4 separate regions of the Homo sapiens genome follow, and all the other regions are reported to be linked to region 1. Evidence: microRNA targets listed by miRTarBase, many of them from high-throughput screens and not tested one by one. Region 1 holds a microRNA gene; each other region holds the end of a gene's coding sequence.
The links. The annotated mature microRNA hsa-miR-4433b-3p reads CAGGAGUGGGGGGUGGGACGU and lies in region 1 at 1,402-1,422, shown strand. An mRNA with a match to its seed (bases 2 to 7 or 8) in the 3' UTR can be bound and repressed. Matches are read on the target gene's strand: a 7mer-m8 pairs with bases 2 to 8, a 7mer-A1 pairs with bases 2 to 7 and ends in A, and an 8mer does both.

Region 1 (3,104 bases):
GTGTGTCTATCTCTGTCCAAACTTCCCCTTTTTATAAGGACAACATTCATATTGGATTAGGGTCCACCCTAATGACCTCACTTTAATTCGGCTACTCTATAAAGACCACAACCCTAAATAAGGTCACACTCTAAAGTACTGGGGGTTAGAACTTCAACACATGAACTTGCAGGGGAGACACAATTCAACCCATAGCACCACCCTGGAAGCTGGAGAACAAGGAAAGAAACAGTTTCTGGAGCCTAAGACAAGATAAGCTGGAACAAAGAGGGCCTGCCAAGATGGGTAGCAGGGATCACACAGAGATGGCTGTGTAGTGGGAACTGCAGCCACAGAAGAGACTCCTGAGAAAGAGAAGCAGGAGAAGTACTCTGGCTTCTCCTTCCTTCACCTCCAATATCTTTTGCCCTCCCTCACTCCCCATTGGCTGAACTTTACTGGAAGGCAGTTGGCTCTGGAGCCTGGAACAGCCCCCAGTGACACAGAGCAGATCGGGGGACCACGGGATGGGAAGGGTGGACATGGCTCTGACAGCAACAATGTAACACCCATGCAACGAGTCTGCGAGGCCGAATGGAAGCCAGCTGGCTGCAGGGGAGAGAGCAAGAGAGTCTGGCAGAAGGTGCACCTGGAGAAGGAAGTAGAGGCCAGGCCAGGTAGGAGTTTGGTCTGCATGCTAAGAGCCATAGAAATATCCAAAGGTTTTTAATAGAGCTGGGGGAGAGGCGGTGATGTGATCAGAGATGTGTTTTGAAAAGACCTATCTGGCTATGAAGTGGAGAGTGGGTTGAGGATAGTGGGGCAGATCAGTTAGAAGGCTACGCCTAAGAGAAAGCCTGTTTTACAAAAAGAGGGAGCTCCTGCTGCCCCTCTCTTTCCCTGGAGTTTTCATACCCTCCACGTGTACTAGACATGTGTATCTGCCAGTCAAAGCCACCCCTCCCCTGGTGCAGAGGCCCGCTCCAAGCTCTCATTGCCCAGTGTCCTTTTTCTAGATCCTCTCCTGGTTCACTTCCTTTCTCTCTGGGCAGTCCTTCCCATGCTGCAACACTGATTCTTCTTTTGTCACCCACCTGCTGCAAGGGGGGCCCTTGTCACCCATCTCACCCATCACTCTGGCTTAATGGTGCTGACTGAGTCCACGGCTTTGGTGGCCACCCATATGTTGCTGCTGCTTCTCAGATCTGTATTTCCAGACATGATTTCTCTCGTGAGAAAAATCAGCCTGCCAGATATCTCCACTGGAATGTCCAAAGGAATTGGAATCATGAGCTCAGCATGTCTAAAACTGAACACATTATCTTCCCCTCGCACGTGGACCCCTGTAACCTGCCCTTCATCCTGTGTTCCCTATCCTCCTTATGTCCCACCCCCACTCCTGTTTGAATATTTCACCAGAAACAGGAGTGGGGGGTGGGACGTAAGGAGGATGGGGGAAAGAACATCATCCTAAACTATTCCCTCTTACTCCCCCACATCCCATTGCTGTCCAAGTCCTGTTGGCTCTGTCCTAGATATCTGTCAAAATCCACTTTTCCTGCTACTTCCCTAGCCCAGGTCCTCATTTTTATGTGGGTTCATGCAGTGGTCTCCTAGCTGGCTTCCTGCCTCAAGCCTTGCCCTGGCCGGTCCACTTTTCCTACAATCAAAGTGACATCTACCAGTGTAAATAGATCATGTCCTTTCTCTGCTTAAAATCCCTTCAGTGATTTCTTATCGTCCTCAAGTCAAGTCTGATTACTATCTCTGCACAGTGCCCAGCCCACAATAAATGATTGGTGATTAAATGAATAAATGACAAACCAATATAGAAAAATTGCTAAGTGTGGAAATGAAGAAAAGATGCCATTTTTTTTCCCCTGGAAGTCTTTCCGACTGTCCAAGACTCAATCTGGATCTATCCTTGGGTGTGTTTGTATTGTACTTCTCACACTATACTAAACCCATCTACTTACCTGTCTGTTTCCTACTGGAATGTTCCTTGGTTGCTACTATATCTCTTAGCACAGCTCCTGGAAGAAAGTAAATGCTCAAAAAATATTTGATGAATGAATGAATGATAAGGAGAGCTCTGGGCTGGGGCTGACTATGAAATGCTTATTAGGAGCAGAGTGTGTCTGTCCTGGTTCCAAAGCACTGGGGGAACCAGGATGGGTAGAGAGGCTGAAGGCAAGCCCTTTAGGGGAAGGATAGCAGTGACGAAGGCTGAAAGATCAACAGCAATACATTTTTCTCAGGAGACTTCTTTGGGGCAGTGTTTTCTAAGCTGGGTTCCAGGGACCACTGGTCTTGCGAGATGCTCTATCTAGGGTTCTATATCAAATCAGCATGTAGAAACATGCAGCCCATACCCCTTGTGTACATCAGCATCTCAAAGAGTCTGAGAAGTCCTGCAGTTGAAAAACCAACACTTTAACCCTTTTAACTCAGTATTTCCTGAACTTATTCCATAAGTTTGAATATACAAAAATAAAGTTTTTTGCTTAATACTCAGCAACACCCCCTTCCACAAGATATACTGGAATAAATAGTGTTTGGTGGTCATGAGTATTTTAGGAAAAGGGCAGGAGAAGCTTGAATTTCCCCCAGTGTGCCTTGGGTGAGCACTGTGGTTATAGCCACTTGATGAGAACAGTCAGAGGAAGGCTGCTCTGGGCCATCAAGTGCAGACTGTATAGGACAGGAGAAGGGTGGGAACAGAGACACCCCTGAAGGGGTTGTAGATTCAGGGGGAAAGGTGATGGATGGCCTGGACAAAGATTGTGGTGGAAACAAAATCAATGGGCACACGATTTTCCCTTCTTGGAAGAACCTCTGAAAGGAGAAGCCCTATTCACCCCGACTGCCTGGCTTAGGCCACACCCCTAGAAATGCAGCTACAACCAGGGCAAACCATCAACAGCATCTTCTCAGCACCCATGCGATCCCAAGTAGGCATCCGAGGACATGCAAAAGAGAAGCATGTGTCCTTTTGTGGTCAAAGTCTGTTTTCTCTCTTGGAGCAGGTATGCTTCTGATGGTGCTGCAAGCAGCAGGGGGTAAGGCTGCAAGCTGGGCTAAAAACAGCCCCACCCCCTCTAGCCACAATCAGCTGTGGGATAAAA
Region 2 (3,104 bases), not on the chromosome of region 1:
AGGACTTAAAGTTCCCTTAACCAGCACCCAGAGAGTATCCTTTCCAGTTTGCTAGTATCTGCTCTTCTAAGTTAACCTGTTTCGGTTAGCATTTGAATTTGCAACTTCTGTTCTGTAGTCTTTTGGTGCATTAAAAGATAATACATAGAATAATAGATATTCTTAACCTCCTGTTAAAAAGAGAATAATAGATATTCTTGACTTCCTATTCCTCCAACAAGATAGCATTACACTAAACACATGCATATGCTTGGGTATTTGTGGGAAATGCTGTGGAAGAATCAGACTACATCTCAATGGCCATTTCATTTATTAGGTAGTCGTTTAATTTTTGTGTGAACTTCTTGTCCATTACGCTTAATATTATGCCTCATTTGGAATCTGCTGTGAAGCTGTACAGTGTGGTTTCTTCTGGACACAACTTGATAAATTCTTGTTACTAATTACAGGTTTGATCATTCCGGCAAATTGTGTGTCTCCTCTTGTAAATCTCCTATCAACTTCAGACCAGTCTCAACAGCTTGCGGTCCAACAGAAACAGCTATGGCAACAGCATCACCCTCAGAGCATCACCAACTTGAGCAACGCATGAAGAACAGACAGGTTTCAACATGGATGGATCTGAAATGCTGTTGAAGCATATCATTTGCATAAAAATCAGGGACAGTTTCCAAAGAATTATATATTTTTTTCAGTTGTGCTCTCTAGTTAGTTTTTTTGGGAGTAAGGACAAACCTGGAATAGATAGCAAAACTGAAAATCAGCAGTGCTGATGGTGGTACATATGTCTTTCCTTTAGCTTCTCCCCTGATAATTCCCATCTGCTTTTACTTCGGGTGAGCAGAGGGGGATGTGTGTGTGCGTGTGTGTCAGTCTGTTTGTGAGTGTGTTAAAGGCTACAGACCACAGTTGGTTTAAAATGCTTGGAACTTCCCAAACTGGCTTTACTTTATGTTTATACAGTGCTCAGGGTTAACGCAGTACATCCATGCCATTGCTGTGGGAGGTATCCCCGGATGCATGTGTTTTGAGTCTATAAATATAGAAAATATATATTGGTTTCTTTTTCCAACTTAATAGGTTTATTAAAGCATGAAATGAAAGGTTGCATATCATGCATTCAGGTTATTTTCTAATTTTTGTTCTGACAGTGCATGTCTTTGGAAGCATGCTGAAACAAGATTAACACAGGAGTCGAGTAACAGAGAGAAACATTTGTTAGATGTACAGCATTGGTTATTGCATTTTTATAGTGTTTATACCTGGGTATTGCTTCAAACCCTGCAGACCCCTCCTTCCCCTTCTCCCTGCCCTGGGTTTCTGGTCAAGGTAATGAATACATACATTTTTCTGTGATAAAACTCTTAAAAGTTAATTTTAATGTATTAATAGTATTCCTAATGTGTGCTGCAGAAATGGCTATGAGCCTCTTAAATTTACATTTGCAACTTAAAGGTAGTTTTAGAAGGAAGTACAAATTGGCTTTCATCTTGCAAACAATCGTTTTTTACTTCATTATCTTAATTTGCTTTGTCACTCATAAAAAGGAAACCATACCTGAGTTGTAGACAATGAGGAAACACTTGAGGCTTCTGCTGTGTGTTCTTTTGTTATTGTTGTTATTGTTGTTACTCAGTAACTTGAATATTGTTTAATGTGTTGTAAGACGTAGAGTTTATCTCAAGCTGTTAAAAATGGTAATGTACAAATGTGAATAGACACTTATCTATATAATATGGGTAAGTTTTGTTTCGCCTATAATAGATGTTTATAAAAACAAGTGAGGGGACAGTTGGTCTTTTTATCTTTTCTTTCTTTTTCTTTCTTTTCTTTTTTTCTTTTTTTTTTTTTTTTTTTTTTTTTTTGCTTCCACAGGTTGCACTATTGAAAAATCGAGATTGTATAAACCTGGTAAAAAGCTGCAAGATGCCAAAATCTTGTAGATGTCAAATAAAAAGTTATTATACTAACAAGAAGTGGACTCTTGTTTAGGCCCTCACTGGTGACCTTCAGAAGTAGTCTGTGACGGGGACTCAGCAGAATTTGTGTGTTGTCTCAGCATTCCAGGTAGCCTTATAGTTTGGCTTAAAACTTATCCCTAAAATGTAAGATGGCATTGAGGGAAAGGGTATAATGATAGTACTTCTGAATGTTTTTTAAGTTGAATTGTTTGTAAACTTCTTGCAGAATTGGGTGAGATGTGTGTTAAAACTGACAAACCTGGCTGAAAGCTTAGGGCGTTCATCCTCTTGTGTCTCCTTTAGCCTGAGTTTGGTTATGTCAAGCTTACCGTAAGTTTTCTTAGGATTTATTTATTCTTGGTGCCTAAAAGAATAAATTGAAAGTACTTTCTGTTCTTTGGCACATTTTGCCCAGCGGATGCAACTTCTATCCTCAGTCCAGTTCATATATCTCAGGCAGTGATCCATTTTGTATCAGCCAGTTTCCCTTGTTAGGGCCGCTAGACCCGGCTGGCAGCCAAGAGCAGCACTCTCCCCACCTTCAGCAGAACTTCTCAGCTCATGTGTGTGTTTTTAAAAGCAGTAGGCAGCTTCCATCAGCAATGGAAGTGTCCCCCACTCCAGTGGTGGAGGTGCAGTCGCTGGACCTGAGGAAGTGGGGAAGCATTACAAACCCTCCTGCAGTAAGAATGGCAGAGTTGGGAAGGATCTTCTCTCGCAGGCTGTTGGCCCAACTCCTCTTTTCTGTGTATGAGGGCATCTTAGTTTTTTATGGCGTTTTCAAAGCAGCATATGAGGATTCTTAGCATGCAGCTAAGTGACAACCCCCATGGCCTATGATGTAATGTTTGCTCTGGACTAGCCATCTTGATAAATAGGAGTGTATGTATCTTAGGTTCTTTGTAGAACAGCTATTTTTTTTTCTCATTAAAAAGGCCTCTGAAAGCCCTCTCAAAATGGACCTCACAAAGGCAACCAGTGTGAATGGATGGGAGCTGGGGTGCTGCATGCCCAGGCTGGTCATGGTGTGTGCAGCACCCAGAGAGTTGCACCCACCCCTTCTTCAGGTGGACATCCGACCTTTACACTGTGGTCTTGCAAAAATCAGCGAGTTAGTTTGGCCGCCCTGTGAAGCTTCAGCAT
Region 3 (3,104 bases), not on the chromosome of region 1:
TTTTCCAGTTGCTGCTTTCTTCCAAGATCGGGTAGGAGGAGCTCTCCCTCACCGCCTCCCAGTGAAGAAAAGGACCATTTAGAAGTGTGGGCTCCAGTTGTTGACTCTGAGGTTCCTTCCTTGGAAAGTCCCACTCTCCCACCCCTCTCCTCACCATTATGCTGTGATTTTGGAAGACCCAAAGAGGGAACCTCCACTCTTCAGTCTGTGAGGAGGGCTGTGGGAGGAGATCATGCTGTGCCTTTGGACCCTGGTCAGTTAGAAACAGTTTTGGAAAAGTGAGCTCTGGGTTCTGCTCTGAGATGGTCAGAGAAGATGCGGGCCAGGAGACTTACTCAGGTGGGACTGGGCACAGGGCAGGTATGTGGGAGGCTGGGCTGCTTAGTGTCTTCTAGTCACCTCTGCTTGGGCTGATTGACAGAGGTCAGTCATTACAGCCCCTTATGCCTCTTCCATGGGAACAAATACTGTGCAGATGTTTGTAAGTTAAACATAAGACACAGGGGCTGTTGCTTTTGAACAGAACCCTATATTACTCTCCTGGGATCTGAGTTTCTGCAGGTCATTTGTATGTAGGACCAGGAGTATCTCCTCAGGTGACCAGTTTTGGGGACCCGTATGTGGCAAATTCTAAGCTGCCATATTGAACATCATCCCACTGGGAGTGGTTATGTTGTATCCCCATCTTGGCTGGCTTCAGTTTTTGCTGTAGCCCTAGAGCACTTTGTTTGTGGGAGGCTGGCCTCTTGCCTACCTCCTTGCATGGACAGGGGGATGAATATTTACTTTCCCACCTCCTTGCTTTTTCTTTCACTGATACCACTGAATGGAACTGGTGCTGTGACTCCTGCTGCTGGGGATTTATGTCCCGAGACCTTAGCCTGGCTGAGTGGAGCCTGAGACCTGCACAACAGCTCATGGTCATGCATGAGAGAGAAGTGGCTGGCCACAGCCAGAGGGAACAGTAACAGCCCAGGGGCCTTTATTTTGGGAAAGGCTGTCCCGGGCTGTTACTGTCTCTTCTGGTTATAAAGCAGACATGTGGCCATCTTTTCCGCAGGGTTAGAGTGGGCTCCTTTCTTTTTGGAATCCTTTTCTTCTCCTTTGGTAGCAGCTCCCTGCCTCCAGGGCTTCCGCCACCAGCGTCTCTGCTGTGTTGCGCAGTGCAGTGGGGTGCAAGGGCTTTGTTTCTGCCTGCCTGAAAGAGAGGGCTCTGGGGATGGAGATGAGAAACAACACGCTCTCCTTCAGACAATGAGGCATTCTGTCCTCCTGCTGCCATTCTTCATCTCCACTGAGAGCCAGAGCTGGTAGGAGCCGAGTGCCACAGGCATTCTGCATTGCTCTACTCTTAGGTTTGTGTGTGTGATCCTTCCCCTCCCTGTCGCCCACTCCTCCCTCCTCTGGCTATCCTACCCTGTCTGTGGGCTCTTTTACTACCAGCCTATGCTGTGGGACTGTCATGGCATTTAGTTCAGAGTGGAGGGGCTTTGGCCTGAAATAAAATGCAAGTATTTAAGATTGTTGTTGCAATTTGTGTCTAACAAGCTGTAGCAGAGAAGGAGGGAGTGAGCGCTGGCAGTATTTCCTTTCATAAATCATGAATTTATCAGTGTGGAAATAATGCTTCAGAACTGTGCTCTGTAGCCCTCCTGCATTGTGTGTGCAGCTCAAGTTCACCACTGGAGGAAGGATTGTCTTCCAAAGAGCTGGGATCCAACTCTTCTCACAGTTCTGGGCGTGAACCTTGTTAGGTATAATTTACCTGATGCTGCTTCCATCCTCGCAGTCTGTCTGAGGTGCCAGGTGCTGAAAGAGAAATAAAGTTTGTCAACAGGCAGATGCAAAGCCCTGGCTGGTATTCATCCCTCTTTCCTGCCCGCCTCCCCTGGGTCTCTCCTTTATATGATGCAGCAGAGCAAGGCGAGGATAGAAAACCTACAGAGGCAAATCCAAAATGTCAGAAGAAGTTCATTTAAAAGGGGAAAAAAACTCCATGTGCAACCCTCACAAAAACCCGACAGATGCTAAGCTAATGGCATCCGCTCTGCCGATTGGTGGGGATGGCTCATGAATATTAATGAGCCCAATGCTCCAAATGGTGCAGCTGTGAACCCAGCTGTGCCTGAAGCTCTCTGATCTCGAAACTTCCAGACAGGAGCTGGAGGTGGTCTGTGTCAATTCCCTACTCAGCCAAAAAAACAGCAAGCTGGGTTGGCCTTCTTCTGTTTGCTCCTTTTCTTCCTGGAGTTGGTGCTCAGCAGCTAGTTCTGCCAGCCGGCTAGGCTGCTGGGACAGCAGGAGCCATTCAAAGACATGGATGTGATTTTTCTGACTCCCAGCTTTTTTAATGATCCATTAGCAGCATGCATACAACAGCACCTCAGTTAATCTAAGGCCAGGCACCATCTCTTTTCAGTCTCTCTCTTAACTGAGTATAGGCCTTGGAAGGAGAAGTCCTAGGAAGGAAAGCACTTTTCTAATAATACAAGCCTAGGGTCATCCGAAAAATAGCGCACATGAGTTTTCCTCTCCATCCAGATAGTGCCATAGGCCCCTCTTCTGTTTTGCTCTGTCCCTGCGTGTGCCCAGGTCTAGCCACTGTGGCCAGATGACCTCTATGAAAGATGGAGGATTAGCTGTGGGGAGTGGCTCATTGAGCTGTTTTGTAGGATAAAAATATTTTGTTTAGAATTTAGTTTTGAGTCAAGTTCTGTCCTGATGTAGTCACCTTTCTTCTGTCAGATACCTCCATGGCCCACATCTAGTCATCCATTACCCAGGATGACTGATTCCAAGCTTGTGGAGGTTGTTTGGTGGGAGGAAATGTGTTTGTGTGTGAGGGGGGTGTTTTCTTACATTAAAATACTAAGTTTTATAAACATAATTTTATTGGCCCTTCTCAGTGCCTAGCAAGGAAGGTAGGTTAGGTATATGCTCCTTTTTTCGTTGAGGAAACTGAGCTCAATGTTTTTGTGTGTGTTTTTTTATTTGTTTGTTTGTTTGTTTTGAGATGGGCAGCCTTTGCTGCCCAGGCTGGAGTGCAGTGGTACAATCTCGGCTCACTGCAACCTCCACCTCCCGGGGTCAAGCAGTTCTCCTGC
Region 4 (3,000 bases), not on the chromosome of region 1:
TCCCAGGTCTCCTGCTGGGTCCCCGGGGCCAACGTGGCATGGTGGGAAGAGCTGTCTTTCCTCTGTTCTCGGGCAGCCAAGCCCCCGGGTGTGGCCCTGGGCATGTCCCAGCCCTTTCTGGGCCTCATTTTCCCCATCTGGGGATTACAAGGTCAAATGAGACTGGGCGAAGCCTCTCTGAGGGGTGGGTCTTGTGGCAGCCTGGCCATGCCCCATGCAGAGGTGGACTCAGCCTGCTCTCTCACCTGCCAACAGGGGTCTGGGAGCACACTGTTGAGCTCGGTACCTCAGTTTTCCCATCCCAAGGGGCTGCAGTGAGGATCAAGGGAACTCCTCGCTCAACTTGGGGCCAGACCCATGGATGGTGACCACGATGCCCCTTTCCCTGCAGGCCGTGTTCCACATGCAGTCGGTGAAATGCCTTAAGTGTCAGGAACAGAAGCGGGCAGTGCTGCCGTGCCAACACGCTGCGCTGTGTGAGCTCTGCGCTGAGGGCAGCGAGTGCCCCATCTGCCAGCCTGGCCGGGCCCACACCCTCCAGTCGTGACCCTGCAGGCCTGGCCCAGCCTGGCCCAGATCTTCTCACCTAGGACTTTTTAAAGTATATATATATATATGAATATATATATATATGTGTATGTATGTATGTATATGTATATGATTATGTATATGTATACATTTCCGTATGTATGTATATGTATACATTTCCGTATGTGTGCAGGTATGCGTGGTGGTGTGGACAGTGTCTGTGTGTATATCTGTACATAGATATAGACACACACTTTAAAAGACTTACCAAGCACTTTTTAAAAGAAGAAACTATTTTGCAGTCCTCCCCTACCCACTCCCTGCCCTTCCCACTGCAGAGATGACATCCCCTCTTCTCCCACTGGCCTTTTGGCAGAGAATCTGGTTCTGTCTCTTTTTTAATGTAGGAACTAACTATTTTTAACTTCTTCCTGGGGCCTGAGCAGGGAAGGGTGGGACTGGAAGGCACTAAGGGGAAGGGAGAAGCCCTCAGGGCAGGCCCTGCTCCCCCTACCTCCTTGCCAGGGCAAGGGTGGAGTGTGGAAGACGTGGGTCCCCCAGAGCAGGCCTGGCCCCCAGCTGTGAGGGCCTCAGGGAGGCCCGAGGGGGAGTGCTGGGGGTCTCAGCTGGCTTAGCTCCTAAGTTTACCAAATGTTAATTTAGTCTTGGGGAGAACAGCAAGGGCTGGAGGCCAGTGCTGCAGGGCCAGCCCCACTCCTGACACCTGGGCCCTTGAAGCTCCTTGAGGGGCAAGGCCCAGGAGTTCCAGCCCTCAGGTTCCTGAGGGTCCACCCTCAGTCCTTCCCCCCGCCGCCCCTCCCCGGACTCCCCACAAGAGCCTCCCTGGCCCCAGGGCCGCCTACCAGGCTGGTACTCATTCTATGACCACCGCCCCCAACCAGCTGCCCCCAGCTCTCCCTGCCCCCTCCCCTCTCTGGCAGCTAGCAGGGCAATTGGCGGGGAGGAGTGCGGACTGAGGACTGAGGACCAAGGGGGCCCAGGCCCTGCCCTCCTACCCGGAGGGGCTCCGTTTGCATTCCTTGGTGCTCTCTGAGTGCAGCTGGTGTCCCGCCCTGTTCTGGGCGGACGCCTGTGTGCGTGTGTGTGTGCCTGTCCAGTGTATATTGTGTCTTAGCTTCCATTTTAAAAATTGTTCTGTACAGAGAGAGATGCAGCAGGGGCGGGAGGGCAGAGTGGGCGGAGGGGAGCAGCCGCACCCCCAGCACCGGGTGTCTGCGGTAGGAACAAGAGGGCTGAGAGGGTCTGGTCCTGGCCCAGGCTCCCCCTTGGGCTCAGCACGAAAGGGCTTTCAATGAATTAAGTGAAAACTTTTTCCTTTTTTACAAAAATGCAAAAATCAACAAAGCTCCAAACCTATTGGAAATAAAATATGAACTTGCAGTGGTAGCTTGTTTACATGGGGGTGAGGGGGAGTGGGTCCCAAAAGAGGGCCTCTGAACTATGAGGTGGGCCAGGAGCCTTGCCTCAGCCATGGAAACGGCTGCTGCCCACACCCCTGAGCTGTGGTAAGGCAGCTGGAGAGGGCTGGAAACTTCCTGGGCCCATCAGGCCCCAAGACAGTTCAAGTGCTCTCCGACCTAGGCCTAGCGGTTGATGACACAGGGACCCTTAGCCTTGGACACAGAGGCCCCCCAGGCCCTAGGACTCTTTAGGGCTGTGTGGTCAGCGGTGACTGGCAATAGGGCCCGTAACTGTTTCTCAGAGGAACAGTGTCTTCCCAACTGGGCATGGTGGCGCATGCCTGTGGTCCCAGCTACTAGGGAGGCTGAGGTGGGAGGATCACTTGAGCCCAGGAGGTCGAGGCGGCAGTGAGCCATGATTGCACAGCTGCCTCCAGCTTGGGTGACAGAGTGAGATCCCATCTCAAAAACAAAAACAGGCCGAGGCGGGCAGATCACTTGAGGTCAGGAGTTCGAGACCAGCCTGGCCAAAATGGTGAAACCCCGTCTCTACTAAAAAAAAAAAAAATACAAAAATTAGCCAGGTGTGGTGGCACATGCCTGTAGTTCCAGCTACTCAGGAGGCTGAGGCAGGAGGATCCTTTGAACCCGGGACGCAGAGGTTGCAGTGAGCTGAGATTGCCCCATTGCACTCCAGCTGGGCGACAGAGTGAGACTCCATCACAAAAACAAAAAACCCAGTGCCTTCCCATTGGGATGATTTGCTGGTAGGACCCAGAGGAAGTCCTGCCTTCTGCCTTCTTCACCCTACCCTGCCCCTGAGGGATGAGGGGCTGAGGCCTAAGAGGTACGTCCTCCCTCCCACCTCCTCAACTAGGCTGTGCGGTGGGGGGTGAGAAAACACCCTGGTGGGATCCTCTTTGCATGGTCTCGGGCCTTGGATGTCATCTCAGCTAACCTCGACTCCTGTCCTCATTTTGTGCAGACTCAGAGGTTCCGACATGGAACCAGGGTCACACAGCTAGGATGACGTGATGACCAGGCCTCAGGT

Region 2: miRTarBase lists SBNO1 as a target of hsa-miR-4433b-3p. The part of its 3' UTR that is shown has no 7-base or 8-base seed match.
Region 3: the mRNA of SNX11 is a reported target of hsa-miR-4433b-3p. Seed matches in the 3' UTR shown: 7mer-m8 at 1,390-1,396.
Region 4: the mRNA of UNK is a reported target of hsa-miR-4433b-3p. Seed matches in the 3' UTR shown: 7mer-m8 at 1,241-1,247.

What each region holds. Positions count from the first base shown.
Region 1 is chr2:64,339,087-64,342,190 of GRCh38, reverse strand. MIR4433B (microRNA 4433b) reads left to right here and starts at 1,343; the gene lies at 1,343-1,444. MIR4433A (microRNA 4433a) reads right to left here and starts at 1,432; the gene lies at 1,352-1,432. It overlaps LOC105374768 (a long non-coding RNA gene), which reads left to right and starts at 482. Exons shown (of 3, transcript NR_189739.1): 1 at 482-656.
Region 2 is chr12:123,293,396-123,296,499 of GRCh38, reverse strand. It overlaps SBNO1 (strawberry notch homolog 1), which reads left to right. Exons shown (of 32, transcript NM_001167856.3): 32 at 450-3,104. The coding sequence ends at 592. Among named protein-coding and RNA genes, the nearest start is that of CDK2AP1, 23 kb to the right of the region's middle.
Region 3 is chr17:48,121,227-48,124,330 of GRCh38, forward strand. SNX11 (sorting nexin 11) reads left to right here. Exons shown (of 7, transcript NM_013323.3): 7 at 9-2,375. The coding sequence ends at 282. Among named protein-coding and RNA genes, the nearest start is that of SNX11, 15 kb to the left of the region's middle.
Region 4 is chr17:75,823,871-75,826,870 of GRCh38, forward strand. UNK (unk zinc finger) reads left to right here. Exons shown (of 16, transcript NM_001080419.3): 16 at 392-1,929. The coding sequence ends at 547. Among named protein-coding and RNA genes, the nearest start is that of UNC13D, 19 kb to the right of the region's middle.